Linked DNA regions of Homo sapiens: region 2 is linked to region 1. The links come from fine-mapping of genetic effects on gene expression. A gene starts in region 1. The other region holds a variant in brackets. All regions are shown on one strand. Distances are from middle to middle. Region 1 holds the start of ZNF875 (zinc finger protein 875). Region 2 overlaps ZNF793 (zinc finger protein 793).

Region 1 (16,157 bases):
CAGAAATTGCGGGGGGAGCCCAGCAATGTTTGAACAAGGCTTCCAAGTAATTCTGATGCACACTAAAGTTTAACAACTACTCAGTGGCTAAAAGCACAAACTCTGGAGACAAACTGTGTTCAAATTACAGTCCCCTCTCTCCTCCCTCCCCTATGACTTTGCGTTGATATCTTAATATCTGTGTCTCAATTTCCTATAAAATCGATATTATAATAGTACTTACCTTATGGGGCCATTGTGAGAATTAAACAAAGTTGCTATTGGCAGACATCCTATGGCTTTGAGGGGAACCAGCCTGGATGAGGCTGACACTGTAGAGAACAGGGTAGACTGCAGAGATGAAAGCACCCCAGTCCTTGGGAAGCTTATGGAGCTGAAGGACCAACCCCAAAGTGCACTCTCTCTGTGAACTTCTTTTTATATAGGCTAAGTTACTTATTGTTTAGAACAGCCTAAATTAGGTTTACTGTTGCTTGCGGCCAAAAGCATTGTATCTAACCAGTGGATGGGTACAGTGATGGCCCCAGTGAATCATGCCTCCCTGTTTCTACCCTTCATGCAGTCTCCTCCTAAATTAACCCTGGGCTTGGCCATGGGACCTGCTTTATCCAGTGGGACACCAGCAAACATGATGCAAGCAGATGTTTGAGAGGCATCTGAGTTCAGGGCTGGCCTTCTCGCTGTGCAAGAAACCTTGAGACCACCATGTGAATAACCTGAGCTTGCCTGCTGAAGAGGCCACATGGAGAAGAACCAGGAATTGAAGCATCCCAGCCAACCAAGCTGTCAACCACCAGACAGGTTGAGACCATCCAGCTGTAGCTGAGCAGCCAGCTAACTACAGCCACATGAGGATGCCAAGAGGATCAGCTCAGCCATGCCGGGCCTACTTGCTGACCCACAGGATTTTGAAAAAATGATTTCATTTTAAGCTGCTAAGTTTGTTTGGTTTTTTTTTTTTTTTGGTTTTATTTTATTTATTCTTTATTTTTTGGAGATAGTCTCACTCTGACACCTAGGCTGGAGTGCAATGACGTGGTCTCGGCTCACTGCAACCTCTGCCTCCTGGGTTCAAGCGATTCTCCTGCTCCCGCCTCAGCCTCCCAAGTAGCTGGGACTACAGGTGTGTACCACCACACCCGGCTAATTTTTGTATTTTTAGTAGAGACGGGGTTTCACTATGTTGGCCAGGCTGGTCTCGAACTCCTGACCTCATGATCCGCCCGCCTCGGCCTCCCAAAGTGTTGGGATTACAGGTGAGAGCCACTGTACCAGGCCTAAGCCGCTATGTTCTTTAGGCCACTAAGTTGGTACACAGAAGTGAAGTGCTGCCATAACAAAATACCTAAAACATGTGGCATTAGCTTTGGGAGCAGGACATGGGCAGAGGCTTGGAAAGCATCCAGGAAAACTATTAGCACAGGCTGGAAAACCAGTAAACAAACTGCTAGTGGGGACTGGGAAAGGAGTGATGAAACTGATATGGCAGCTTGAACAAGGCAACTAGTATTATATATTAGCAAAGCTATTGCCTGCATGAACTTGGAAAACAGAAAATATACCTGATGAATTTTTGGATCTAGCTAAAGAGATCTCCAAAAAGCCTGTTAAAAGTTTCACTTGGGCCAGGCGTGGTGGCTCACATTTGTAATCCCAACACTTTGGGAGGCCGAGGCAGGCGCATCACCCAAGGTTGGGAGTTTGAGACCAGCCTGACCAACATGGAGAAACCCCGTCTCTACTAAAAATACAAAATTACCCAGGTGTGGTGGCGCATGCCTGTAATCCCAGCTACTCGGGAGGCTGAGGCAGGAGAATTGCTTGAACCTGGGAGGTGGAGGTTGCAGTGAGCCGATATCGCTCCATTGCACTCCAGCCTGGGCAACAAGAGTGAAACTTCATCTCAAAAAAAAAAAAAAAAAAAATTCAGTTGGATGTTTCTAGTGACATATAATAATGTCCAGAAACAGAAGAGCTGAAGAAGCAATTATACAGCTTGCAAGCGTAATTCAGAGGAAATATAGACAAGTCAGGACTTGCTAGCTTGGAAATAAAATTATTTTACATCTTCAGTCTCTCCAGCCAGCACATGTCTCAAAATAAAAAAATAAACTCAGAGTAAAGTTCGAATCAAAAGTTTGGCTAAAAGACCCAAACTTTAGAACCTCTGAAGTGTTAAGGGGATGCCTAGTGGAGTCTCCACGCTGGACAAAAAGGCTTCTGAGATTCTTATGGGCATTGTCCCATAGCACCGACACCTTGCCAAAGATGTGAGGCCTGTCTGACTGTGATTTCAGCTTTTGTTTAATAGAGCAGTCCCAAATCTGGTACATGGGAAACCCATAGAGCTTTCAAGGAAGTCCAAAGGATCTGAAACAGTTCAAAATGGAGAGGCCTCCTCTATGCTTAATTCCTGTCCTTTCTGAATGGGAGCATCTACTGCAGTATCTCTCTCTCACCACTGTATGTTAGGTAGGGAATGTTTGGGGTGGAGGGAAACAAATGACTTGCCTTTTTAGTATACAGGTATCTGACTCAAAAAGGATCCAGTGAAGAAGCTTTAGCTACATCCAGACTGTTACACATAAGATACTGGACTTTTGAATCAAGATGAAACTTTTGGGGATCTTGGGAGGGGGGTGAGTTAATCTTGCACATGGTAAGGGTATGAATCATTGGGACCAATAAATCATGTCTCCCTGTATCTACTCCCTTATGTTATCCCGTTCTATGACGACTCTGGACTTGGCCATGTGACTTCCTTTGGCCAAAAGGACATCAGTGAACATGACAAAAGCCAAAACGTTAAAACTACTTGTTAATTGGGGCTGTCCTCTCTTCCTGCATAGAGAAACCCAAGACCATTTGACCAAGCCCAAGCCCACATGGAAGAGAACCAAGAAGAAACTAGGCACCCCAGCCAACCAGCTTCCTGTCACACATGGATAGTCCTCCAGCCCTGGTCAAAATGCCAGCCGACTGCAGCAAAATGACAAGACCAGGTGAAATCTGCAAAACCTACCTGCGGCCAGCCCAAAATATGAACCTACCAAATTATGTGCTAATAAGTGATTTTGTTTTAAGCCATTGATGTTTAGGATTGTTCATTATACAGCAAAGGCTGATACACTGATAGAGGGATCACGTGATATGAAAAATACGTGGTGACTAATGTGACCGTTGGCTTGCTGGGATGCCCATGATGTCAGAAACTCCTAAGCTAGTCTTGGAGAACAGCAGATTCAGTCCTCCCATTTCTCACTCACTCCTGGGCATGAATTCATTAAATGGGAAAGGAAACAGATTGACCTGACCTACTTTTATTTTTCTCCTCTTTTTTCAGCTGAGTGGATAAAAAGTAAATGTATCTAAGTTAAAAGTACACAAGGCCAGACGCGGTGGCTCACGCCTGTAATCCCAGGACTTTGGGAGGCCGAGGTGGATAGATCATGAGGTCAGGAGATCGAGACCATCCTGGCTGACAAGGTGACACCCCGTCTCTACTAACAATACAAAAAATTAGCCGGGCGTGGTGGTCGGCACCTGTAGTCCCAGCTACTCGGGAGGCTGAGGCAGGAGAATGGCGTGAACCCAGGAGGCGGAGCTTGCAGTGAGCTGAGATCGTGACACTGCACTCCAGCCTGGGCGACAGGGCCAGACTCCGTCTCAAAAAAAAAAAAAAAAAAAAAAGTACACATAAGATGACTCCCCTGTGGTAACAATAAACACACTTTCAGACTGAATAATCAGAACATGACATCAGACAACAGGATACAATATTTGAAATGAAGACTGTCCTAAATATCTAAGACACTGAAATGAGGCACTAAAGGTTTCTGAAAAGTGATGTTACTGCAATGTTGGGGAAAACGAGGATTACAGAAACATGTAGTGGGTGGCAAAGGACCATGTCAACATTTGGAAACAAATCAGGATACTATGTGAGCTTTCATGTGAGAGAAGAAAGAGACCTAAGTTGGCAGGTCTACCCCGGTAATCAAAATCTGCACAGTGTAATAATTAAAATAAAAGCAAATAAAAGTTGTACAGTAGGGCTGGGCGTGGTGGCTCACACCTGTAATCCCAGCACTTTGGGAGGCCGAGGCGGGTAGTTCACCAGAGGTCAGGAGTTCAAGACCAATCTGACCAACATGGTGAAACCCCATCTCTACTAAAAATACAAAATGAACTGGGCACGGTGGCACATGCCTGTAATTCCAGCTACTTGGGAGGCTGAGGCAGGAGAATCACTTGAACCTGGGAGGCGGAGGTTGCAGTGAGCTGAGATCATGCCATTGCACTCCAGCCTGGGCAACAAGAATGAAACTCCATCTCAAAAATAATAATAATAATAAATGAATAAAATAAAATAAAAATTGCACAGTATAAAGAAACACATGGTGAAGAAGGGAGTCTCAGAAAAGAAAGAAGTAATTGGAAGTTCAAATTCTTTAGAACTGGCAGGGTTCAGGGCCAGCCGCGGTGCTCATGCCTGTAATTCCAGCACTTTGGGAGGCCAAGGCAGGTGGGTCACTTGAGGTCAGGAGTTTGAGACCAGCCTGGCCAATATGGTGAAACCCTGTCTCTACTAAAAATACAAAAATTAGCCTGGTGTGGTGGCGGGCACCTGTAATCCCAGCTACTCAAGAGGCTGAGGCAAGAGAATTGCTCGAACCTGGGAGGCAGAGGTTGCAGTGAGGCGAGATCGATTGCACCACTGCATCCCAGCCTGATGCAGTGGGACAGAGTGACAGAGCGAGACTCTGTCTCAAAAAAAAAAAAAAAAAAAACTGGCAGGGTTCAAATCTCCAACTGCTGTGGGTGCCCAATGCTTCAAAACAGTCATGTCTATTCACCTTGTCATATTTTGTATGAGAATAAAAACCTATATAAGAATTTCATGTACAAAGCTGATCATAGAAGTATTATTTGCAACAGTTAAACATTGGAAACAGGAGTCCAAAAATTGGGAAACAATGGATGAGTTCATCCATTCAATGGATTACTATGGAAATTATTTTCAGTGGGATAAGTGTTGGCTGTTTCTACACCTTTAAAAATAGAGCTGGGTAGATACACTGCCAGTAACTTTACTCCATTATGATTTTACCATTAGGGCCTGTCAAAATATGTTTGCAGGGGTGTGAGCGCATATAAAATTAAATTAAATCCAAATGAGAAAGGAATCCTAAAATAAAATGGAAGACTCCTGAGTGTGCAGACTGTGTTTTACCCATCATTAACTGTAATCTACTGAGTGTTCTGCACATAGCAGACACTCAAGTTTGTTGTATGGCACCAAGGAAAAGGAAAAATGCTAAGAAAAAAAATAACATAATGTGCCTGCCAGTTCATCTCATTGTTACAAATTTAACACAAATTTTAATTTATCCTCTCAGGCAAAGGTCCTTGGCAGTAATACCTAATGTCCTAAGATAGTCTTGCTTTGATTATTTTGTATAATTCAGATGCCATGCATATCAAGAGTATCTGGAAATTCTACCCAACGCTCCTGAAACATGTGATTAACCACATGCCCAAAATAACAAACCAAAGCAAACAACAGAAACTCCTTTGTTACTTAGTTCCTTCAAATCGTTTACTTAAGGTTGTGATTCCTTCATGCACCAAACATTTCATGTGTGCTAGGCATGAGAGACACAGAGGTTTCATCTTAAACAACTATTTAAATGCTCATGCCCTTTAATTTTTCCTGAGTAAATACTATGTTAAAAAGCTACATTGAAGAACAAGTTGTTTATATACAGGAGGCAGTTCCGGGTAGACCTACTGAGAATGAAGGAGGTGGCACAGGAAAAGTCAGCTACCACAAACTTCTGACTTTTCCCAGCCAATCAGAAAGAATGCTTCCCTGGTAACACTGGGAGTGGTGAAGAAAGTACACACAAAAAGGCTGGGTGCAGTGGCTCACACCTGTAATCCCAGCACTTTGGGAGGCAGAGGTGGGTGGAACACCTGAGGTCAGGAGTTTGAAACCAGCCTGGCCAACATGGCGAAACCCCATCTCTACTAAAAACATAAAAATTAGCCGGGCGTGGTGGCATGCACCTGTAATCCCAGCTACTCGGGAGGCTGAGGCAGGAGAATCGCTTGAACCCAGGAGGCGGAGACTGCAGTAAGCCAAGATCGTGCCACTGCACTGCAGCCTGGGTGACAGAGCATGACTCCGCCTCAAAGAAAAGAGAAAGTACGCACAAAAAATATTCAATGTTACCTTGGGAAATGTCCTGAATTGGATTTCTTATGTATTCCTGGTATTAACACTCTCAAATGAATTAACTATTTTAGAAATGAGAAACAGAATTCTCAGTGTTGCTCTGATAACATCCAGGAATGCATAATCCCCACCACTGGAGTCCAGAATTAAGAAATCTCTTTTCCTGTCTAAATTCCACTCAGATTTCTTGATAAGGATAGTCAAGGCAAATCTGAAATAACCAAGTTAACCCATATCAAAAATGACTGTTAAACAGCCTGGCAACTGTGTTGGTGCTTAATGAATGTTAATTGCATTCAATTAAGTCAGGGGCATCATCGTCACCAATCTCAGGGCTTAGAAAAGCTTCCCCTCGGCCGGGGGCTGTGGCTCACACCTGTAATCCCAGCACTTTAGGAGGCCGAGGCAGGCGGACCACCAGGTCAGGAGTTCAAGACCAGCCTGGCAAACATGGTGAAATCCCGTCTCTACTAAAGATACAAAAGATTAGCTGGGCCTGGTGGCGCCACCTGTAATCCCAGCTACTCGGGAGGCTGGGACAGGAGAATCGTTTGAACCTGGGAGGCAGAGGGTGCAGTGAGCTGAGATCGCACCAGCCCGGAAGACAGACCGAGAATCCGTTTCAAAAAAAAGAAGAACGCTTCCCCTTAAGTCCTTATACACAGTCAATCACTATTTCCCACATACCATTGACTTCCTTATGTCAAGTCCCTTCTTAACATCCTTCAAAACTCAGCTTACTCAAAGACAAAGTCTACCCTGCTCAGCCTGGCACTCAGCATTTTCTGATTTGTCCCCACCCTGACCGAGAGGTGGAAAAGGCAAACCCTTCAGGGGTCAGGTAGGTAATAAAAATGAGAGGGGGGTGAAATGTTAGGTAGTCAATGGTTTCAACCTCAGTATAAAGGACACTGCAGAAAGTGCAGCTGATACTCTGAAGGTCACGTCCAAATGATAAAGACGTTGTTCAGCTCAAATTGTCTGACACCAAAGAACAGTGCAGATTTAGGGCAGATTTATTTTCAGAGAAGCAGGGAATCTGGAATTTTGGAAATGTCCCAATTGCCAGAAGCTGAAAGTGCTCTCAAATGTAAAATTCAGGTCAGACTATATCGAAATTCTCCTTGTTCTATGTGTGAATAGATAGTCTGTATCTTAACATATGTATATTTATTTATTTATTTATTTTGAGATGGAGTCTCACTCTGTTGCCCGGGCTGGAGTGCAGTGGTGCGATCTCAGCTCACTGCAACCCCCGCTTCCCAGGTTCAAGCGATTCTCCTGCCTCAGCCTCCCGAGTAGCTGGGACTACAGGCGCTTGCCACCATGCCCAGCTAATTTCTTGTATTTTTAGTAGAGACAGGGTTTCACCGTGTCAGCCAGGATGGTCTCCATCTCCTGACCTCGTGATTCGCCTGCCTCAGCCTCCCACAGTGCTGGGATTACAGGCCTGAGCCACCACGCCTGGCCAAGGTTGATTTTTAAATATGCATAGGTAGCCGGGTGTGGTGTAATCTCACTTGTAATCCCAGCACTTTGGGAGGCCGAGGTGGGTGGATCATGAGGTCAGGAGATCGAGACCATCCTGGCTGACACGGTGAAACCCCGTCTCTACTAAAAATACAAAAAATTAGCCTGGCATGGTGGCAAGCGCCTGTAGTCCCAGCTACTCAGGAGGCTGAGGCAGAAGAATGGTGTGAACCTGGGAGGCAGAGTCTGCAGCGAGCCGAGATGGCGCCACTGCACTCCAGCCTGGATGACAGAGTGAGACTCGGTCTCAAAAAAAAAAAAAAAAAAAATTCAATCTTAAGCAAGTCCACTGGCCACCATAATCCTTCCACACTGAGAGTCCAGCCTCTGAAACTATCTATGCTTCCTTGCCGCCTCCCACTGGAATGCCTTCCCCCCAATCTCCAACTTAACAAACCAGTCAGGGGCAATTGAGACAGCCCTACTTCTAGGAGGCCTCCCTAACCATTTGAAATCACAGGCATCTGTGCTGTCCCTGCCCTTCATCCACATCACTGAACAATTACGCATGTATGTCTCTTTACTTTTATTTAAACTGCTCCATATGTGTTGTTCACAATTAACTACTTCATGAGTGACTGCGGTAAGGATGGAGCAGAAAGGAATGCTGAGGGAAGACTCCTGTTAGAACGAGGCACTCTTCCAGGACTAGGAATGAACTCAAAGGTAAAATTCAGGTCAGACTATGTTTGGAGCCGAAAAGACCAAAGGGATTGTGACCAACTCAGCATTCCACTGGAGGTTATATGATTAAACGGTAAACTGTTTATCATGAATGCAGGATGTGAGCAAACGCACACTGCCACCAAAAGATGTGCTGAGAGCCATCACTGCCTGGCGCCTGGCTCCTTGAAGTGATCTACCAGGAAATCTAGCGCCTATTGTTGGAAGGATGCAGTCTTGCAATTGCGAACCAAACGGCCAACTGACAATTACCTGACAATCACCACCCCCTAACTTGTTATCTGTTTTACCAATAAATACGGGAGGGTTGTGTAAAGCTCAGGGCCCTTGTCCACTAGAGACAAAGTGCCCCCGACCCCTTCTTCCAAATATACTTTTTTGTTTCTTGTCTTTTATTCCTTTTGTTCAGTCCACCAGGTCCGTGCAGGTTACAAGTGGCGCCCTGAACAGCGACAGAATCGGACGCTCTACAAGACTATATCAAAATCCTCCTTGTTCTATGGACTAGGAATGACTAGGGCTAGGAATGACTTTGCCCAATACCAACAAGGCAGCCTCCAGGACAAGAAAAGGTAATGGGACCCATTCTGTTGACAGCCAAGATAGAATTACAGTTAATTCTCACCTCTTTTTTGGCTCTCAGGAGCCCTGTGGCCATTTTCCTGGTCTCCTGAGTGCTCTTCCTGGAGAAGGGCAAAGTCTCAGAAGACAGATCTGGGGATGTGAAGAGAAATAAGAGTGGCCTAGGTGGAAACACCCTCCCCACGAAGTGAAGCGCAGTCCGCTCCAGAGCCCCACAGTTGGGGTCTGGGATGTCACAGAAATCACCAGAGCAGCCAATTCCCATCCAGTGGGGGGCCAGGATGACCCAGCCACCCTCAAGCTCAGCCGCAAGCTCGGGACAGGGAGTGAAGCCCTTGTCCCCAAGCAACGGAGTGAGGGTTTATCTCTAACCCTGTGGGCTCGAATGAAAGGAAAATGGCCTGGAGGTGCCCAAAGGAGAGCGCCCTAGTTCTGAGATAGCTCTGCGGCTCCCAGCCGGCGTCCCCGTAACACAGGGACACGCAGAGGGGCATGCTGACTGCCTATAGGGCACTCACGGAACGCGGGTGCACGCTGCGGATCCTGAAGCCGAAAGTCAGGTAACAAGGTGCAGAGGTGTGGGAAAGACCTTAAGAGGGAGGCCTTCCCGGGTCCCAACCAGCTTAACGCGCCTGGGCCACCGACCGGAAGTGTTTCTGACGTCAACGCTACACACTGAAGGGTAGGGAGGGGAGCGGAAGTGACCGCAGAGGCCTCTGGGGATTGTAGTTTCGGAGCTACAGAGGCGGAGAAGTCGGCTTTGCCCACCACACAGGGTGACTGACATCTGCACAGCGCACACAACCAAGTTTACGAACCCACTCTTAAGATGCCCAAGTGACGTTGACAAGTTTCTCTGTAAACCAATGAGATCTGCTGACCGCGAAGGCATCGCGGGACTGCCGAAGGATTCTGCAAAATGTGGTCCCGGTGCTCTGCGGGTGGCCAGTGTGCGCTGACCTTCAAGGTGCGGGTGAGCTGAGCTCACTACGCAAGTCTCCGCCCTGATGCGCCCTTCCCTGAGCAGGTGCCAGGTCGGGACAGACGCGGCTCAGGGAGAGACGATGCTCTGCGGGAACCACCAGTTTGGAGGCGACACCGGCCCTTTGTCCCCTAGAGTAGGAGGGTGTACCAGGACAGGGAACCCCAAGGCTATTTTCGCGGAGAGCAGGATTGGTTTGGGGCAAACTCCCGGAATGCAGATGGGGGAGACTGGTCGCGTGTCCCTAGGATTTTAGGGGATGCAGACTGAACTTGGGGTGAACAGCAAAAGATCCCCTGGTGGTGGTGGGGATCCGAAGCTTGATCAGGAAATTCCCGAGGTTTTTATTGGAGGCTGGGGTACAGGTGCGGCTTGGAGGAAACTTCCGGAGGGTGGGGTGGAGGTGGGGCGGTGTTGGAAAGGAGGCATAAGTCTGACCGTTTTGTTCAACAGGGGTGTTTTCTTTTTGCATTGATTTTATTTTTAAAGATATTACATTAAAATATTGTTTATCTTGATTACTGAGTTTTTTTGGTGACCCTTTAAATTCTGTATCCACAGTCCCCAGCATTTACAGAAGTGAGGGCCTGGCTTCTAGGGCATCAAGCAGCCAGAAAGTCCCTTAGGACAATTGTTGAATTGTCAGTGAGTCATCTTTTCCTTTCCTGACTTCCTTAATATCCACAATTTCCTCGTAACCATCCCTCCAAAGCCACACCCACAAGGCACCTCCAAGACCTATCATGAAGCAGATATTCAAAGATTATTTGTAAATCTTCACACCCTACCCCCTCCAGAATGTCTTCCAACATCCCTTTGCCTGGAGAAGTAAAAAACAAGGTTTGCATGTTGGGTATCAGCCTCTCCCATTGAGAGGGTGTTTAGGAAGGAGGATCAGCCGAGAGCCCTATTCCAGCCCAGGTAAATGACCCGGCCAAAGATTTAATATCTATAAATGTAGAATGCTTGTCACAGAACTCAGTGGGAACCACAGTCAGGCATGGGGCTGGGATTTAAGAAGCACAAATGAAAAGCAGGGACTAGAAAACTTAAGAAAGATATGGTAGGGGTGGGGGTGGGGGTACAGTGAGGATGTGGGATCCTGAGATAATCCAAATCACTATGTTTAGATGTAGGTGTACAAAGGGAGTAAAGAGAGACCCAGGCTGATGGGGTATTTGTAATAAATCAAACATAATGTAACAGCAGGTCAAGTAATAAGGGGACTCTCAAGTGATAAGGATCAAGTGATAAACAGTGAAAGGGGCAGAATGAAACTCTACAGAAATTAACAAACATCAACAAGACATCTAGGAAAGCATTTACAGCTGCATTCATTTAAATGAAAGGTGATAGTTACTCAGTGCTGTGTGCCAAGTACAATGATACACTCTCACCTGAGTTACCCTTGTAAATCTGAACCACTTGTCATTATCTGTGCTTTAAGGAGTCCTATTTTCCACACTCTTAACTGGCTTGAGATGTGAAAATCCATCTAAATTATAAACGCAGTGGGGAAGAAAAAATCTAGTCATGCCCATCAAGGGAACATGTCTAGTTAAAATTAGCATAGATAAAAATCAGCAAAAAACAAAAAAGCAAATTGAAAAAATATTCTTTGAAATTAAAAGCCATACAAACCACTGTGTCACTGATGAGTTAAAGAAGAAACTGGCCTGCAAACCAGAAAATACACTGGAAGAAGCAATAGTTAAAATACTTCAGATCTAAACCTGTAGAATGAGGCTACCTCAGTTCCAAATATATCAGCTTAAAAGTAGTGGCAAAAAGAGCAAGAAGTTGGCCAGGCATGGTGGCTCACGCCTGTAATCCCAGCACTTTGGGAGGCCAAGGTGGGCAGATCACCTGAGGTCGGGAGTTCGAGACCAGCCTGGCCAACATTGCGAAACCCCATCTCTATTAAAAATACAAAAATTAGCTGGGCGTGTAGGGGTGGGTTGCCCCTACACACCTGTGGGTGTTTCTCGTAAGGTGGGACGAGAGATTTGGAAAAGAAAAAGACACAGAGACAAAGTATAGAGAAAGAAATAAGGGGACCCGGGGAACCAGCGTTCAGCATATGGAGGATCCCGCCAGCCTCTGAGTTCCCTTAGTATTTATTGATCATCTGTGGGTGTTTCTCGAAGAGGCGGATGTGTCAGGGTCACAAGACAATTGTGGGGAGAGGGTCAGCAGACAAACACGTGAACAAAGGTCTTTGCATCATAGACAATGTAAAGGATTAAGTGCTGTGCTTTTAGATATGCATACACATAAACATCTCAATGCTTTACAAAGCAGTATTGCTGCCCGCAGGTCCCACCTCCAGCCCTAAGGCGGTTTTTCCCTATCTCAGTAGATGGAGCATACAATCGGGTTTTATACCGAGACATTCCATTGCCCAGGGACGGGCAGGAGACAGATGCCTTCCTCTTGTCTCAACTGCAAGAGGCATTCCTTCCTCTTTTACTAATCCTCCTCAGCACAGACCCTTTACGGGTGTCGGGCTGGGGGTGTCGGGCTGGGGGACGGTCAGGTCTTTCCCTTCCCACGAGGCCATCTTTCAGACTATCACATGGGGAGAAACCTTGGACAATACCTGGCTTTCCTAGGCAGAGGTCCCTGCGGCCTTCTGCAGTTTTTGTGTCCCTGGGTACTTGAGATTAGGGAGTGGTGATGACTCTTAAGGAGCATGCTGCCTTCAAGCATCTGTTTAACAAAGCACATCTTGCACCGCCCTTAATCCATTTAACTCTGAGTTGACACAGCACATGTTTCAGAGAGCACGGGGTTGGGGGTAAGGTTATAGATTAACAGAATCTCAAGGCAGAAGAATTTTTCTTAGTACATAACAAAATGGAGTCTCCTATGTCTACTTCTTTCTACACAGACACAGTAACAATCTGATCTCTCTTGCTTTTCCCCACATGGGCGTGGTGGCCACTGCCTGTAATCCAGCTACTTGGGAGGGTGAGGCAGGAGAATCACTTGAACCCAGGAGGCAGAAGTTGCAGTGAGCCAAGATTGTGCCATTGCACTCCAGCCTTGGCAACAAGAGCGAGACTCTCAAAAAAAAAAAAAAAAAAAGCAAGGAGTTATTAGCTCTATACACTTTTTTTTTTTTTTTTTTTTGAGACAGAGTCTCACTCTGTCGCCCAGGCTGGAGTGCAGTGGTGCCATCTCGGCTCACTGCAAGCTCCGCCTCCCAGGTTCACGCCATTCTCCTGTCTCAGCCTCCCGAGTAGCTGGGACTACAGGCGCCTGCCACCTCGCCTGGCTAATTTTTTTGTATTTTTAGTAGAGATCGGGTTTCACCATGTTAGCCAGGATGGTCTCGATCTCCTGACCTCGTGATCCACCCGCCTCAGCCTCCCAAACGCTGGGATTACAGGCGTGAGCCACCACGCCCAGCCAAGCTCTATATACATTTATAGAAGAAACTTCTAATTTGAAAAACTCAAAGTTTTAAGTAACAATGATCACAAAAGGGGAAGAACAAACTTCCAGAATCTTGGGGACAGAGGGTGGTGTGGTGGGAAGAGAGGGAATTACTCTGTCACCAATGAGTCAAAAAAGTTATTAAAGATTAATTTTAAATGAATAAAACTAAAAACCAAGACTTACAGAATGAGACTAAAACCATGGCTGGAGGAAAACTTTTAGCCTGAAAGTAGCCTATGACTTAGAAATTAAGGCAGAAAACTAAGGAGTAAGCAGTTACCCTTCAGGTTAGAAAACCAACAGAATAACAGGAAATGAGAGAGGGAGGAAATAATCAGATGGGGCTGAGATGGGGGCTTATGGGGATGAAGGAGGCAGGAAGAGCACATTAAGTCTGTGCATAAAGTCACTCCCTAAGGACAGTCCCTGAGAGGAAAGTGGGTGCACAAGGATCAGGCTAGGTGTAAAAGGTGACAGGCAACCCTGGAGGGTACATTCAAGGGTTGACAGTGGCTAAGAAAACAGGAGGGAAAGTCAAGTGTTGAGCCTTTCCTGTCCCTAGCATGGAAGACATCAGGAGCTGATGAGTGAAAGTGATAAACACCATTCTCATCACCAAAAAAAGTCAAGTATTTGAGGTAATGGATAGGATAATTTGACTTAAACATTCCACACTGTATGGAAAAATCATAACATCATTTTGTACCCCATAAATATATACAATTTAAAAGATAGGTAAAAATCAGAAAAAAATTGAAAAAATATTCTTTATTTTTCAAACATATATAATTTATGGAGTACAATCTAATTCATCAATGTATATGATTTTTTTTAATGGTAAGTCAATAAACACAGCAAACAGTCCCTTGAGAGGCAGAGAAGGAAAATGGGCACAATCTGCCCTTAGAAAGACACAGCATTTAAATCCACGCATGTGAGAACTCCAGGATTCAAGACTAGGGGTCAAAACACAACCTGGTTTATCACCTATAGCCACAGGATGGCACCAACACCCACTGCTCCAGCCTGAGCTGGCCAGAGAGAGAGAGCATCCAGGAAAAGCTGGAACCTCCCAGAAGGCCTGAGACCTGCAGGTACCACACTGTAGTCCACTGAAGAGGAGGGCCCAATGTGAGGGGGAAAAAACCACTGAGGAAACATAATATTTGTGTATTTTTAATAAGATATTTAATACGTGTTCAGGTAGAAGTAGGTACAATGACAGAAAATAAGGTAGAGGAATGTGCTAGACACCACAGATACGTAATGATGGACAATAAATGACATGATGTGGAGAGTTCACCCACACATGCAGACTTCTTATGTTCACATAAACATTTATCTGCATGCATCACCCAGTAGAGACAAACTGCACTTACACTGTGAAGTCAACGAGGAGATAAAGTAAAAATCAAATACTTATGGAGAGAGTCAGTCTCTCCATTTAGTGGGAAACCCTTCAGAACACGCACACAGCATCTCCCCTCCCTTCTGAATACCATCCATAGCCTGCAGCAGTAGATGGCAAATCACAGCCTGGGCCACCCTTCCCAGAATGTCAAAAACATGGACATGCAGACCACAGAATTCACCAGATACCCAAGCTGGGTGGTGCGAGGCTCTGAAAGACATGCTTCAAATAAGAGGGACTAGAAAACTCCGCAAGGGAGCAACAGGGATCAGGGATTCCAGGAGGATCCAGGGGCCTGTGCGAAGAGCAAGCAGTGAGCAGATGTGTGTGTCAGTGATTCGGTGGCATGAACTCAACACCATCTAATACAGCAGCTCACGTTTCTTTGTGCATCAGACTCACCTGGGGACTTGTTAAACACAGATTGTTGGGTCTCACTCCTAGAGTTTCTTCTTCAGTATTCTGGGGAGCAGCCTGTGAATCTGTATTTCCAGCATGATTTTCAGGTGCTACTGATACTATTGGTCCAAGGACCACACTATGATCTAATTTAACATCAGATTAGGGGAGGAACTAAGGAGCAAAGAAGCAACAGAATGGACCTGAACCCTGTACGGGCTTCTCTGTAAACTCCTCAAACATAAAAGCCTTCGAGACACTCAAAGAGCATTTACAGCATCATGTCTACAAATACAAGGCACCACGCAGGGAGTGCTCCATCAAGTAGAGAGAAGAGCTCACTGAGTGTCCCTGTCTTAGTCTGTTTGTGTTGCTATAACAGAATACCACAGACTGGGTGATTTATAAGGGTTCACTTGGTTTATGGTTCTGAACACTGGGAAAGTGAGGGGCCTGCATCTGGTGAAGGTCTCGCTGTGTTGTCCTATGCTGGAAGGTAAAAGGGCAAGAGAGTGACCACATGTGAGAGGGAGAAGGGGAAAGACAGAAAGGGAGGAAGCCAACCTCATCCTTTTATCAGGAACCCCCTCCCAAGATAACTAACCCACCCTACCTTCATCCATTCATGAGGGCAGAGCCTTCATGACCTAATCACCTCTTAAAGGTTCCACTGATCAACACTGTTGCATTAGGGGTTGAGTTTCCAACACATGAACTTTGGGGAACACATTCAAACCACAGCAGTCCTCATGTAAACCTTCCAGAAAATCTGTGTGCCTGGCACTCTGGAATCCCTCTTTTCCACCCTTTCTCTTTTTTTCTTTTTTTGAGACAGAGTTTTGCTTTTGTTAACCAGGCTGGAGTGCAATGGTGCGATCTTGGCTTACTGC
Region 2 (16,157 bases), 200 kb before region 1:
GATTTTTTTCATATATTTTTTTCAATGATTGTCAAAAAATCATTGAGATTTAGTGTAATTCCAAAAGAAGTACATATAAATTATGTTTTCTTGTCAGTATGGAGAACAGCTCTTGATTTTGGTACCCTGTCTTCTTAGAAAAGTTAACTCAAAAAATAGTCTTTTCATTTATTGGTGTACAACCATATCATCAGTAAAAATGGATAGTTTTACCTTTTCTGCTGTTTATACCAATTCATTTCTTTTTATTGCCTTCACTGGAATCTCTAAGCCAATATTGAATTCCTGATTTTAAAAAATGGCTTTGGCATAATATATGCTTTGGGGTTTGGGTTAAAAAAAATTTTTTTTAAGAAAAACCGCTTTAAGTGGTTCCCATCTATTACAATGTAAATTAACACATTCTATGAAATGCCTTCTCAGTATCTGTTGAGAGTTCATATGATTCTTCTCCTTTAAACTGTTAATTTGATTGATGCATTTCCTATTAACTGAACTGGTTTGGCATTCTTGGGATGACTCTTACTATGTCACTCTTTGGGTATATGGCTGAATTCTATTTGCTAGTATTTTAACTATAATTTTTGTTTCTATATTCATGAGTAAGACTGGTCTGAAGTTTTCTTTTTTTTTTTTTTTTTTTGACGGAGTTTCGCTCTTGTCACCCAGGCTGGATGGCACGATCTTGGCTCACCGCAACCTCTACCTCCTGGGTACAAGCAATTCTCCTGCCTCATGCCTCAACCTCCCAAGTAGCTGGGACTACAGGTGTGTGCCACCACACCCGGCTAATTTTTGTATTTTTAGTAGAGATGGGGTTTCACCATCTCGAACTTCTGACCTCATGATCCACCTGCCTCGGCCTCCCAAAGTGTTGGGATTACAGGCGTGAGCCACCGCACCCAGCAGAAGTTTTCTTTTTTCAACTATCTGTATTTGATTTTGGTGTTAAAATTTATTCTGACTTAATAAAATAAATGAGTACAGTTCATGGATTGTATTACATCCATATAATAAATAACACTGGTATTACTCTTTCTTTAAAAGATAGAACTAAGCATGAACTCTTCTGAGCCTGGAGCATTTTCCCATTATAGATCTTTAATAGCTTTTTTGAGTTTTTCAATGTTAACTATCCTACCAAGTTTTCTACTTCTTATTGCAGTTTTCATAACTTAAGTTTATTAGAAAAGCATCCACCTCCTCTTTTTAAAAAATATGTTGATTAGAGTTGTATGAGGTATCTTTTTATCACTTAAAAAATCATATTGATATCTGTGGTTATGTCTCCTTTCTCATTCTGGATCAGGCAGTCTTACATGGAGGGAAATCTTGAAAAATGTAGATTCCACATGGCCATTTATTTTCTAATATGGATGACATAGCAACTCAGGGAAGCAGACTTCTTTCCAAACATTGAAATAATTAAAACCTTGGGATTTAGTGTCTAGGACACTTGCAAGGAAATTTATATGAAAAAAATGAATATTCTTGAATTAATTTGCAGAGGGATAGAGAGAAAAGAAATTCTCCTTCAGTGGTCTACGCATGAAACATTTCTGAGTTATACAACCTGTATATAGAATAGTGTATCTAGAATAGTGTAGCAATGCTACTAATTTGCTACAAGATATTTTAAGCAAGACTAAGAAAATATGAACAGTGTACTGTACACCAGGGTGACACTACATTTTGTCAAATAGTTTACAGTGTTTCATTTACCCAGTATCAGGTTCTTAAACTATTCCTTAGCTTGCATTTTTAATATAAATAACTACATTTTAGTAAAATTTTTGGCCAAATTATCCAAATACATTTAAAAACACTGCTTTATTATTTCTGCAGAGGACAGTAACAACCTCTATAGCCATTTACATGTATTACAAAAAGGTGGAAAAATGTAGCTGGTATAATAAAGTTCTTTTAACAATAGTGGGCCATGTTGTTGTTATTTTTTTGTATTGTTAAGACATCAAAAGACAATGATGATATTTAAAGTGGAAAAGTTTTCTGAATGGCATTCTATATGTTGTGTGACATGTGTCTGATATTCACATTTTATGTTAATTTCACATTTACAACTCCAAAATACAAATAATGCTGATTGTATGGCTCACTGTGGAATATACCAGAGTATGCCTTTAAGTCTCTTCACAGATATTTTGTATTCTGCTGTTATTCCATTTAATACATTTTTAAACGTTTACATGCCAGGGTGTCCATGCTTATGTTTGAGAAAGTATTTTCTAGAAAAGTTTGTATCACAATTAGATCATGATTTCCATTATGATACAACACTGTCGGTTGGGCGCGTTGGCTCATGCCTGTAATCCCAACACTTTGGGAGGCCAAGGGCGGGGGGTTGGGGGGTATCACGAGGTCAGGAGTTCGAGACCAGCCTAGCCAAAGAGACCAGCCTGACCAACATGGTGAAACCCCATCTCTACTAAAAATACAAAAATTAGCCAGGCGTGGTGGCAGGTGCCTGTAATCCCAGCTACTTGGGAGGCTGAGGCAGGAGAACTGCTTGAACCTGGGAGGCTGAGGTTACAGTGAGCCGAGATAGTGCCATTGCACTCCAGCCTGGGAAACAGAGAATACAACTCAAAATAAATAAATAAATAAAATAAAAACACACTGTTCAAATTCATTAAAATGATAAGATTTCTCCTAAGGATAAATTCCCTACATACCGGCCAGGCGCGGTGGCTCACGCCTGTAATCCCAGCACTTTGGGAGGACAAGGCGGGCAGATCACAAGGTCAGGAGATCGAGACCATCCTGGCTAACACGGTGAAACCCCGTCTCTACTAAAAATACAAAAAAAAAATTAGCCGGGCATGGTGGTGGGCACCTGTAGTCCCAGCTACTCGGGAGGCTGAGGCAGGAGAATGGCGTGAACCCGGGAGGCAGAGCTTGCAGTAAGCCGAGATCGCGCCACTGCACTCCAGCCTGGGTGACAAAGTGAGATTCCAACTCAAAAAAAAAAAAAAAAAATTCCCTACATACCATGAAACCAGATATTTTGCTCAAGTATTTCCCACAATTATTAAGTTTTCATTCCTGTAGGCATTCTTCCGAGCATGAATTTTCTGATGTCTGCTGAGGTTTGGCTTCTGGTAGAAAGCTTTCCCACATTCATTGCACCCATAGGGCTTCTCTCCTGTGTGAGTTCTCCAATGTTTATTGAGGCATGACTTCTGGCTGAAGGATTTTCCACATTCTCTGCAACGATACGGTCTTTCTCCTGTGTGCATTTTTCGATGTACATTGAGGTATGACTTCTCACCAAACGATTTCCCGCATTCACTGCAGACAAAGGGTCTCTCTCCTGTGTGTGTTCTCTGATGTTCTGTGCGGTGTGACTTCTGGGTAAAGGCTTTCCCACAAAAAAAACATTCAAAGGGTCTTACCCCAGTGTGAATTCTCTGGTGTTTGATGAGGGTTGACTTATGTGAAAAGGCTTTCCCACAGTCAGTGCAGCCATAAGGCTTCTCCCCAGTGTGACTTCTCTGATGCCTAATGAATTCAGACTTGTAGCAGAAGGCTTTCCCACACTCACTACAGACGTGGGGTTTTTCTGTAGGTGGAACCCTCTTCCGTTTGTACAAGAGAGAATCACTTACTGCTGGTTTATACATAAGTGCCGGGTTCTGGGTGAAAGCTTTCTCACAGTGACTGCAACCCCGGGGCTTTTCTCCATTAGGTCGTCTACCATGATTTATACGCTGAAGCAATTTCCCATAAGCATAACACTCATCTTGCTTTTTTGCACAGTTTCTCTTAAAACCAATCAAGTCTAAATTATGGTTCAAATTCTTTCCACAAGGGTTCCAGTTACTAGGGCTCTGGATTGAAGAAAAAAGATCAGTGCTCAGAAGTGATATTTTCCCAAACTTATTATATTCACAGCTTTTCTCCTTGGGCAATGTTTTCTTGCTTATGGCTGCGCCTGGCCTCAAAAGCATGTCTTGCCGTCTTTTCCTCTGGATATTAACTCGCCAGATGTCTTCTGGAGAAAGTACAGTGAATCATCCTTATGAAACTTCATACTACTTAAGAAATGCTCTCAAAATTTAAAGAGTGCACAGCACACAAATAGAGAACATGAACCATAACCCAAAGCACAAACGCAGGGAAGAGTGTTCTATGAGTAAAGAGGATTCTGAACACTGGCACAAATGGAATTCAATATATCATAGAGTATAGAGACCAATAATTTCAAAGAAAATAGGATATTACAGAGCAGAGGTTGGCAAACTTATTCTTAAGGAGTCAGAAAGTAAAGGCTTTGTGGGCCATATGGTCTCCGTCACAATGACTCAACTCTCCCGCCATACCATGAAAATATAGACAACATGTAAACGTAAGAATGTGGTTGTGTTCTAATAAAACTTTATTCACAAAGCAGGTGGCCAATCGGTAGGCCACAGTTTGCTGATCCCTGTTACAGAAGAAAGAAGGTTAAATGTTATACAGTACCTTGCTATCCAGCATGTGGGTCTTCAAGTGGCAATTTTGGCCTTACTTGGAGCTTGTTAGATGTGCAGAATCTAAGGCACCGCCCCAGACCTACTTAATCAGACTCTGCATTTCAACAAGATGCCCCGGTGATTCCAAACACCTTGGAGCTTAACAAGCACTGGTATAGCAGTCATCCAAGGGAATATCATGTTGGGCTAGTTAGTTACAATATAAACGGTAAAGCACTCTAAGGTGAAACAGATTAAAAAATAAAATCAACAAAGCTAACTAGGACTTAAGCAAGAGTTCTTAACTTGGCAGAAAACAGGGGGCTTGTGAACTTTGATAGAAAAGAAATTACATTTTTGTTTTCACTGAGTTCCAACTACAATTGAACATTTCCTTTGAATATGAATATAAGCAACAAAACACAGTGGTATTAGTGGTTCCTGTGACTTGATACTAGTTTGTGAATATTGTTATTTTCATGTCACATTATTATGTTTATAATCATCTCTTCTTTGAGATCATGACAGTTATTAGACCTGATGCTAGGCCTCATTAACGTATAAATGAAAAAGTACATCTACTATTATATTGCACATTTTGAAAATATTTTGAAGCTGGGCGCGGTGGCTCACGCCTGTAATCCCAGCATTTTGGGAGGCCGAGGCAGGTGGATCATCTGACGTCAGGAGTTCAAGACTAGCCTGACCAACATGATGAAACCCAGTCTCTACTAAAAATAGAAAATAAGCTGGGCGTGGTGGCACACACCTGTAGTCCCAGCTACTCGGGAGGCTGAGGCAGGAGAATCGCTTGAACCCAGGAGGAGGAGGCTGCAGTGAGCTGAGATCATGCCATTGCACTCCGGCCTGGGCGACAGAGTGAAACTCCATCTAAAAAAAAAAAAATTTTTTTTTGATAACTATTTTCTAGCTTATTTTGATAATTACTGTACTTTAGTCATTTATTTTATAATCTTATGAACGTTATTATATTTTTATACATAGAAGTGAGGTCTATAGCCTTCAAAAGAATGCCTAAGAAGTCCATGGCACAAAAATAATTAATAACCCCTCACTTAAAGACATTCAGTCATGAGATAATCTGGGTCTCATTTTAGGAGATATCAGTGGAAAATTAAAAGTGGGGCTGGGTGCAGTGGCTCACGCCAGTAATCCCAGCACTTTGGGAGGCTAAGGCGGGTGGATCACGAGGTCAGGAGATCAAGACCAGCCTGGCCAAGATGGTGAAACCCCATCTCTACTAAAAATACAAAAATTAGCTGGGGGTGGTGGCACGTGCCTGTAATCCCAGCTACTCCGGAGGCTGAGGCAGAGAATTGCTTAAACCCAGGAGGCGGAGGTTGCAGTGAGCTGAGATGGCACCACTGCATTCCAGCCTGGGTGACAGAACAAGACTTCATCTGAACAATAACAACAAAAAAAAGTGGAGAAGGACTGGGCATGGTGGCTCATGCCAGTAAATCCAGCACTTTGGGAAGCCAAAGCAGGTGGACTGCTTGAGCCCAGGAGTTTGAGACCAGCCTGAGCGGCACTGCAAAACCCCTTCTCTACAAAAAAAATGAAAATTAGCCAGGTGTGGTAGCACGTGAATATAATCCCAGTTACTCGGGAGGTTAAGAGGTGGGAGGATCGCTTGAGCCCAGGAGGTCAAGGCTGCAGTGAGCCATGATCATGCCACTGCACTCCAGCCTGGGTGACAGAGTGAGACACTGTCTCAAAAAGAAAAAAAAAAAGCAGAGAGGAAGATTTAAAGCCATTTCTCAGAAGAAAAAAAATCAACAAAACCACACATATGAATGGAACAGTTAGAGTGAGTGGTAAAGGCAGAAGATTCAAAATGACCACACGGTAGCAAAGCCCTGGAATAATAAGCAAGATGAAGTGGTGTGTGTGTGTGCGTGTGTGTGTGTGTGTGTGAGTGTGAGTGTGTGTGTGGCAGGGGTAGCAAGGACAAATAAAGATGATTTTAGTTTTTGACACACAAAGAACAGGGTAAGTGCACACCTGTAGTGTAATCCACAGACTGGTTAAATGCGGGGGTGGGCAGTGCAAGGGGGAAAAAAGGGCCCAACATGGCAAAAGGGCTGGTTGTGAGAATCATGTACTCTCAGAATGGGTGAGTTCTTTGAGAGGATTACACCACTGGAAAGAGAACCAAGTTATGGAAAACAGAAAATGCAATTGTTCCTTGGAAGGAAAATGCTGGGTTTGAGCCAGGGAAATAGATAGTAACAGAGTAGCTGGAAAAACGGGAGGCTGACTAGATACATTCTTGTGGAATTTGCAGTTACGAAATTTTCAGAAGAGGAGAAGAAAAGAAGAGGAGGGCAACTGATAACCGGGATACCACAGTCTCAGGACAGCTGAAGAGCACAGTTTAATGGAGGAACACACTCCAGAGAGCGCCAGAAGCAGAAGTTCAGAGGCATCCCTAAGAGTGGGCCATCCATCAGCCCTCAGGGTACAATGGATATTGCTGGAATGTCTTACAGAGCTGAAGGGAGAGGGGCAGTGAGTCTGAGGGTTAATCAGCAGTGGTTAAGATGGGCCCAGCTCAGCCATTTCCTTCACACCTCCCCACCCCAACATGGAATTCACTGCTTCCTCTTCTCTGATCCCACAGTCATCTGTCTATGGGAGTGATTTAAATTTGAGTGCAGAAATTAGGGAAAGCAGGTAGCTCTGAAGCATTTTATCTGGAAAGTTTGTCACAACAGAGAATAGGAAGCAGGAACAGGAGAATCATAGAAGCTTTTATTTGTAAGAATACCTGCATGGGAAAGATTCTGGAGAAAGAGAGATGGACCAAGCACATAAGGGCAGAGGTGCAATCAAGTAGAGCCGAGAAAAACACTCAGATATGGGCGGTGGGGTTGCATGGAGGTTGAAGAGTCATTAACGTGGCTGAAGCTCTCGGAGGACTTTCAAGGCTTTTAAGAGAAGAATGCTGAACAAAATTCCAAAGGTGCCAGCCTCCTTCAGTACCCCTTTTGCTAGATTTATCACACTTACCCCAACAGTGGCAGCCCGGGCATGCTGCCTCACCAATCCATGGTGCTTCTTCCTGCTCCAGTCTGAGGATCACATCTGGTTTGGTGCCTTCATAACCTGTTCCGGGGAAATTGATGCAGGTCTTGGGCTGAGCTCCTTGGTCTTCAGGGCCTCTCAGGCAGCTTTAAAGGCTGCACAATAGATGTTATACTTGGGAGGGGACTAAACACACACCTTGTCCAGAACCAAATGGGATTAGTAATCCAGGACCATGGAAACTCAAGCCACACCCACTGAGGCAGCAGCACAAGGTAAGAATGCATTCTGTGCTGCCAGAATGCTGAGGTTCAAATCCTGACTCTGCTATCTACTAGCTGGGTGACTCTGGGCAAGTTACTTCACCTCTCTGTACCTCAATTTCCAAATGTGTAAAAAAGTGGTACTAATAGTAACTACCTCATAAGGCTTTTATGAGAATGAAATGAGTTAATATTTTTAAAGTGGCTAAAACAATTTCTGGCACATAGAAAGTGCTAGATAATTATTAAATAAATATTTCAGAAGTTCTAGAGTACTTCCGTTGCTTTTTTTTTATTTTTTATTTTTTGAGACAGTTTCGCTCTTGTTGCCCAGGCTAGAGTGCAATGGTGCAATATCGGCTCACTGAAACCTCTGCCTCCCGGGTTCAAGCAATTCTCCTGCCTTAGCCTCCTGAGTAGCTGGGATTACAGGCGCCCGCCACCACACCTGGATAATATTTGTATTTTTAGTAGAGATGGGGTTTCAGGGTTTCACCATGCTGGCCAGGCAGGTTTCAAACTCCTGACCTCAGGTGATCCACCTGCCTTGGCCTCCCAAAGTACTCCAGTTGCTTTTAGCAACTGAGAAAGGAAAGGTGGTCATTCGAACATAATCTGCATTGTATGGTGAGGATGTTCTTACCCACTGAGACGAGGTTGCTATAGGTTTCCAGCATCACATCCCGGTACAGGGCCCTCTGAGCAGGACTCAGCCGGTGCCACTCCTCTTGGGTGAAGCCCACAACCACATCTTTGAATGACACAGGTATCTGTTGAAACAAAAATGACATTGAGTCATGTCGAAAAAAAATGTTTGTGCAGGGCCAGGCATGGTGGCTCATGCCTATAATCCCAGCACTTTGGGAGGCCAAGGTGGGAGGATCAGGAGTTCAAGATCAGCCTGGCAAACATGGTGAAACCCCGTCTATACTAAAAATACAAAAATTCACCAGGCATGGTGGTGCACACTTGTAATCTCAGCTACTTGGGAGGCTGAGGTGGGAGAATCACTTGAATCTAAGAGACGGAGGTTGCAGTGAGCCGAGATCGCACCACTACACTCCAGCCTGGGCTAGAGCAGGAGTCCATCTCAAAAAAAAAAAAAAAAAA[T/A]TTTGTGCAAGAGATGGTGCTGATTTTTATAATGTTTATAAGTTAGAGCTTATTATCTATCTGGAAGGCCTTTTATATTCTTGGCTTTGTGTTATATATGGTGGGGAAAAAGAAAATCACATTGGAAGCTATCTACCATTGCCATCCATACTTTGAGTCAACAAACATTGAAGACCCACTGTGTGTTGCTGGGGTCACAGTCATAGATGGGTCCTGACCTCAAGGAGCTCACTGTCTGGCACAGAGAGAGCAACATGTAAAGCCATCAGGGTAAAAATGTCACAAGAGCTGTGATGGCAGGACATCTAGGCTATGGCATACAGAGAAGCGAATGGTCTGTTAAATTTTTCAGGTTCTGGTTAGGCTTCAGAGCCCAGGGATATGGAAAGCTGACTCTCCTCCGCAGGAAGATGGAAAACTGCATTCTATGCAGGGGAGCAGTGGGAACAAAGGCCGGGGGGCAAAACGGTGATTTTAGGGGTGGCAAGTTACTTAGTAACAAGAGAAAAGTATGCAGAGGTCGGCCAGCAATGAAATGATGGACTTTAGGGCCGGGCACAGTGGCTCACCCCTGTAATCCCAGCACTTTGGGAGGCCGAGGTGGGTGGATCACCTGAGCTCAGGTATTCGAGACCAGCCTGGCCAACATGGTGAAACCCCGTCTCTACTAAAAATAGAAAAATTAGCTGGGCGTGGTGGCGGGCGCCTGTAGTCCTAGCTACTCAGGTGGCTGAGGCAGGAGAATCTCTAGAACCCAGGAGGCAGAGGTTGCAGTGAGCTGAGATTGTGCCACTGCACTCCAGCCTGGAGGACAGGGTGAGACTCTGACTCAAACAAAAAAAAACAAACAAAAAAAAGAAATGATGGACTTTAGGACAATGGAAACTCCATCCAAGAAGAAGTGTATGCAGAAAGTATATTCTAGAAGGCATGAGGTGAGCTTCTTGCATTCTATGTGAAGTGGTATAATGATAACTCTAAATAAACTGTGAAAAGTAAGATATATATTGTATCCCTGAAGTAACCACTAAAATCATAATGTGAGGTGTGCCTGATCTAAATAAACAGAATTTTGAAAAATGTTCCATTCATCCACACTAGCACAACAAAAGAGAGGAAAGAAGAAATAGAGGAACAAAAGAGTAGACGGGATAAACAGAAAACAGACACTAAAATGACAGATACAAATCCAACCATACCAATAATGTAATTTAATAAAGATTATATGTAATGTAATTTAATATAAATTGTGGGGAAAAGAGAGATCAGATTGTTACTGTGTCTGCGTAGAAAGAAGTAGACATAGGAGACTCCATTTCGTTCTGTACTAAGAAAAATTCTTCTGCCTTGAGATGCTGTTAATCTATAACCCCACCCCCAACCCCGTGCTCTCTGAAACATGTGCTGGGTCAACTCAGGGTTAAATGGATTAAGGGCTGTGCAGGATGTGCTTTGTTAAACAGATGCTTGAAGGCAGCATGCTCCTTAAGAGTCATCACCACTCCCTAATCTCAAGTACCCAGAGACACAACACACTACAGAAGGCCGCAGGGACCTCTGCCTAGGAAAGCCAGGTATTGTCCAAGGTTTCTCCCCATGTGATAGTCTGAAATACGGCCTCGTGGGAAGGGAAAGACCTGACCATCCCCCAGCCCGACACCCATAAAGGGTCTGTGCTGAGGAGGATTAGTATAAGAGGAAGGAATGCCTCTTTGCAGTTGAGACAAGAGGAAGGCATCTGTCTCCTGCCCGTCCCTGGGCAATGGAATGTCTCGGTATAAAACCCGATTGTATATTCCATCTACTGAGATAGGGGGAAACCGCCTTAGGGCTGGAGGTGGGACATGCGGGCAACAATACTGCTCTGTAAGGCATTGAGATGTTTATGTGTATGCATATCTAAAGCACAGCACTTAATTATTTACCTTGTCTATGATGCAGAGACCTTTGTTCACGTGTTTATCTGCTGACCTTCTCTCCACTATTATCCTATGACCCTGCCACATCCCCCTCACCGAGAAACACCCAAGAATGATCAATAAATACTAAGGGAACTCAGAGGCTGGCGGGATCCTCCGTATGCTGAACACTGGTACCCTGGGCCCCATTATTTCTTTCTCTATACTTTGTGTATTTTTCTTTCCTAAGTCTCTCGTTCCACCTAACGAAAAACACCCACAGGTGTGGAGGGGCAACCCACCCCTTCATAAACTGAACACTCCAGGCCAGGCATGGTGGCTCACCACTGTAATCCCAGCACTTCAGGAGGCTGAGGCAGGCAGATCACTTAAGGTCAGGAGTTCGAGACCAGCCTGGCTAACATGGCAAAATCCTACCTCTACTAAAAATACAAAAATTAGCCAGGTGTGGTTGTGCGTGCCTGTAATCCCAGCTACGCAGGAGGCTGAGGCAGGAGAATCGCTTGAAACTGGGAGGCAGAGGTTTCAGTGAGCCCAGATAGTGCCACTGTACTCTACCCTGGGTGATAGAATGAGACTCTGTCTCAGACTAAACATTCCAAAAAGGCAGAGATCATCAGACTGAATTAAAAAAAAAAATGCTGCCTACAAGAGATGCACTTTCAATGTAAACTCACAGGCAGTTTTAAAGTCAATGGATGGAAAGAGAAGTGTGGTGGGTGACCTGGAGGGACGTGAGAGGAAAGACCCTATAGTAACCTGGGTGAAAGGTGATGTTCACAAGCAGGACAGTAACCGTTAGAGAAAGATGGAACGCTGTAAAGAAGAGCAGACCCCATTCTGCATGGTGTGATAATTTCACATTGCATGATGCCTGTACCAAAACATATGCCCATAAATACACACACCTACTAGTACCCACAAACATTTTTTAAAAATTAAAACAACAAAACAAAACAAAAAGAAGAGCAGAACCTGCACCTTAACTGGTTGTGGGAGGGAAAGAGGGTAGGGGCAGGGCAACACCCAGGTATCTTGAAGGCAACCGGGTGATGATGGCGCCACACCTGGAGATGAGGAAACCATGAGGAACAAAGAGGAGGCTGTTGTGCTGGACCTGCCTGGGGACCACGTGGACATGTGGGTTTTGTGTCAGGAGCAAGATCAGGAATGGAGCTAAAATGCTGAGCATCAGCACAAAAGTGAGATTCCTCTGCAAGACGGGGAGAGCAGGGTGCCCAGGCCAGAGCTCCAAGGGACACTAATATTTAAGAAGCCAGCAGAAGATGAGTTCAGCAGGAGATCCAAAGGAGGAATAGTCTGAAAAGAAGAAGTCTTGACCGCCTGGCAGGCCTCGGGTTATGGGCACAGAGAACAAAAGTTCTCTAAAGAGCTGATAGCCCTGGAGATGCCAGCATAAGTTGTGAAGGAGCAGGACAGTCACTGAGGGAGACCCATGGGTACCAGCCTAGGAAGGTCCTGGTGATCCTGTCTTTAAGTGACTGTGTGGTAAAGAATTTGACCTTGCCAAAAGAGAGGTGTGGCCTTTGCCCTCAGCTCCTGGAAAGTAATCTCTATACTCTTGGAATGTCCTAAGAGTGTCCTTGTTTACCTAGTGGTCTTGGGCCACACTAGATAGTCTAATGATGTGGTTTATAATGAGGGCTTTGGGTCACAGGCATCAGCTCAACCTCTTGGAAGGGCTGGAAACTGAGGTCAGTGGTGGGAACAGTCAAGCCTTTCTACATGATCAACCACCAATAAAAAGTGGACACCAGGGCCTAGGTGCACTTTCCTGGTTGGCAAGGCTCCGTCTGTATTGGCACACATTACTGCTGGGAGGATTTAGCACTGTTTGGGACTTCCATAGGAGAGGACAGAAGTTCTATGTGTGGAACTCTCCTAAACTCTGCTTCATGAGCCTCTTCTCTTTGTTGATTTTACTTAATTAATTAATTAATTTATTTTGAGATGGAGTCTTGCTGTGTTGCCCAGGCTGGAGTGCAGTGGCGCAGTCTCGGCTCACTGCAACCTCCGTCTCCTGGGCTCAAGCGATTCTCCTGCCTCAGCCTCCTGAGTAGCTAGGACTACAGGCACACACCACCACGCCCAGCTAATTTTTGTATTTTTTTTTTTTTTCAGTAGAGACAGGGTTTCACCATGTTGTCCAGGCTGGTCTCAAACTCCTGACCTCAAGCGATCCGCCTGCCTTGGCCTCTCAAAGTGCTGGGATTACAGGCGTGAGCCACTGCACAGGGCCTTGGTTGATTTTAATCTGTATGCTTTTGCTGTAATTGTAACAATGAGTATAACAGCTTTCAGTGAGTTCTATGAGTCCTTCTAGTAAATTAGAAAACCCAAAAGTGTTTTGAGGGAGACCCTCAAACTTGCAGTTGGTGTAGAAGTGAGGGTCTTGTGGACTGCTCCCTAACTATATGTGACCACATAACATGAGATGCAAAGCAGTGGATTGGGGCTGGACTGCCTGAGTTCAAATATCAGCTCAGCCTACCCTGGGAAAACTATTTAGCCTCTCTGTGCCATAGTTTCCTCATCTGTTCAATGGAAATAATAATAGTATGTGTGTCTTAATTACTATGAGGTTTAAATTAGTTAAAAGGTGTAAAGCCTTTGAACAGTGCCTGGCACATAATACCATTATATAAATTTGCCTATTTTATTTAAGAAGAAAAATCATATAAATCAATATTTTGAAATCTGTAAGAAAGGGAAAACAATTCTGGCCAGGAGCGGTGGCTTAATGGCTGTAATCTCAGCACTTTGGGAGGCTGAGGAGGGTGGATCACCTGAGGTCAGGAGTTCAAGACCAGCCTGGCCGATATGGTGAAACCCCATCTCTACTAAAAATACAAAAATTAGCCAGGGTGGTAGCACATAGGCGGGTGGATCACCTGAGGTCAGGAGTTCAAGACCACCCTGGCCAACAGGGCAAAACCCCATCTCTACCAAAAAGACAAAAACTTAGCCGGGCGTGATGGTGCATGCCTATAATTCCAGCTACTCAGGAGGCTGAGGCAGGAGAATTGCTTGAACCTGGGAGGCAGAGGTTGCAGTGAGCCGAGATTGTGCCACTGCACTCCAGCCTGGGCGACAGAGCGAGACAACATCTCAAAAGAAAAGAAAAAAAGAAAGGAAAACAATTCTAAAGGACAAAAAATGGGGACTCAGTGCCTGTGCAGTGGGCTTTAAGTAGGGTAGGTAGCTCTATTGCAGTGCTGGGGCCACTGGCCTACCACCTCCAGGAGTGGCCGAAGGAAAGAAGCACCGAAGTGGCTCTGAGAGCAGCCCAGGCCCACGCCCCATTCTCAGGAGGCTGCAGACCTCCATGAGGAATGCTGGGCTTCCAGCAGCACCTGAGCAGTAGTAGCCCAGGCAAATGGGCCTAAAGGCAGGACCAAAAGCAGGGCAGGGGCCATGGAGGCTGGCACATGACACACTAAGACTCACATAGAGGGCACAGCGCACAGGGGGTGCCAAGCAAACACCCTCCCTGATGCCAGAACAACACACCAGGGTAGTAAGAGCAGCAGTCAGGGCTGATCACAGGGCACAGTGACAGGCTCTGGGTCAATATTTCCCAGGAAAAGATACAATTCTGCACCCAGGAAGCCATGCCATTTCCACAGAACACAGGAATGAAGAGGCAGCAATCACTGAAGTTGTGGCCAGGTGTGGTAGCTCATGCCTGTAATCCCAGCACTTTGGGAGGCCGAGGCAGGAGGACCACTTGAGCCCAGAAGCTCAAGACCAGCCTGGGTAATATAGTAAGATCCCATCTTTACAAAAAATAAAAAAATTAGCTGGGCATAGTGGCATGCGCCTATAGTCCCAGCTACTCGGGAGGCTGAAATGGGAGGATCGCTTGAGCCCAGGAGTTCAAGGCTCCAGTGAGTAAGACCCTGTTTCAAAAAAATAAAAAGAATCACTGAACTTTTAAAAATTAGCACGGCATGGTGACTGGGTAGAAGGAGGGGGAAAAGTAGGGAGGAAGTCAAGGGTAAATCTCAGGGTCCCGGCCTGCCCGATGGGATGGCACCATCTCCTGTGATGGGAAACTGAGAAGGGATGGAGGAGGAGGCAGGAATGAGAAACTCAGGGAAAGGAGAAGTCTTCTCAGGACACAGGGCCCTTGGGGGCTGGGAACACCTCACACTGAGACATTCCCAGGAATAAGATGTGTAACTGTTTGCTACCAAACTAGAACACACATATAAGAAGAATGACAGTCATTTAAATGCTGGGCAGTACATCTGTTCCTCAGTCCAGATCAAGGCTACAGCTGCCTTGGATCAAATTCAGGGCTTCTGTACACTTGAAGCAGCCCTCTGACCCCTTAAACAGAAATCATTCCTATTGGCCAGGCACGGTGGCTCACGCCTGTAATCCCAGCACTTTGGGAGGCCGAGGCAGGTGGATCACGAGGTCAGGAGATCGAGACCATCGAAACCCTGTCTCTACTAAAAATACAAAAGTTAGCTGGGTTTGATGGTGGGCGCCTGTAGTCCCAGCTACTTAGGAGGCTAAGGCAGGAGAATCGCTTGAACCAGGGAGTCAGAGCTTGCAGTGAGCCGAGATCGTGCCACTGCACTCCAGCCTGAGTGACAGAGCGAGACTCCGTCTCAAAAAAAAAAAAAAAAAGGCCAGGCACGGTGGCTCACGCCTGTAATCCCAGCACTTTGGGAGGCCGAGGCGGGAGGATCACAAGGTCAGGAGATCGAGACCATCCTGGCTAACACGGTGAAACCCTGTCTCTACTAAAACTACAAAAAATTAGCCGGGCATGGTGGCAGGCGCCTGTAGTCCCAGCTACTCAGGAGGCTGAGGCAGGAGAATGGCGTGAACCCGGAAGGAGGAGTTGGCAGTGAGCCAAGATTGCACCACTGCACTCCAGCCTGGGCGACAGAGAGCAAGACTCCAACTCAAAAAAAAAAAAAAGAGAGAAAACAGAAAGAAATCATTTGTATTTTCACTTTCTTCTCACTGACATGCAGCATTTCCTTCCATTATATATGTGGATCGCAAGCAACAGAAGAGTTAGGACTTCCTACAGCTTTGACACAGATAGAAAACATTGTCGTATCATTGGGGAGCTAGCACTTGGCAGTTTTGGTCACCTGAAAAACTGGGAGTTCTGCCTTGGGTCTAACACTCTATTCCAAGGGGAAACAATATAAAAAACCTATTTCGGATTTATTAGTTATTAAGAACTTTGTCTACTATCACTATCAATGTTTTTCATACTTTTATGTGCGTAAAGATCATCCAAAGCCTTTTAAACACACATTCCCAGGCTACACCTACAAATCACCCCATGAAGCAGGCCA

Evidence for each region.
Region 2: its variant is fine-mapped to the expression of ZNF875 in whole blood (INTERVAL, PIP above 0.99).

Annotation. Positions count from the first base shown.
Region 1 is chr19:37,328,178-37,344,334 of GRCh38, reverse strand. It overlaps ZNF875 (zinc finger protein 875), which reads right to left and starts at 9,686. Exons shown (of 5, transcript NM_001353803.2): 1 at 9,553-9,686; 2 at 9,078-9,166. The coding sequence starts at 9,110. RefSeq lists enhancers at 9,522-9,621, 8,795-9,736, 9,832-9,941, 9,737-10,679.
Region 2 is chr19:37,524,752-37,540,908 of GRCh38, reverse strand. ZNF793 (zinc finger protein 793) reads right to left here. Exons shown (of 8, transcript NM_001013659.3): 6 at 8,427-8,553; 7 at 7,506-7,601; 8 at 1-4,012. The coding sequence ends at 3,030. LOC124904708 reads left to right here. Exons shown (of 2, transcript XR_007067248.1): 2 at 6,781-8,058. Among named protein-coding and RNA genes, the nearest start is that of ZNF571-AS1, 16 kb to the left of the region's middle. RefSeq lists an enhancer at 10,113-10,935. The variant T/A (reference allele first, on the strand shown) is at 8,894.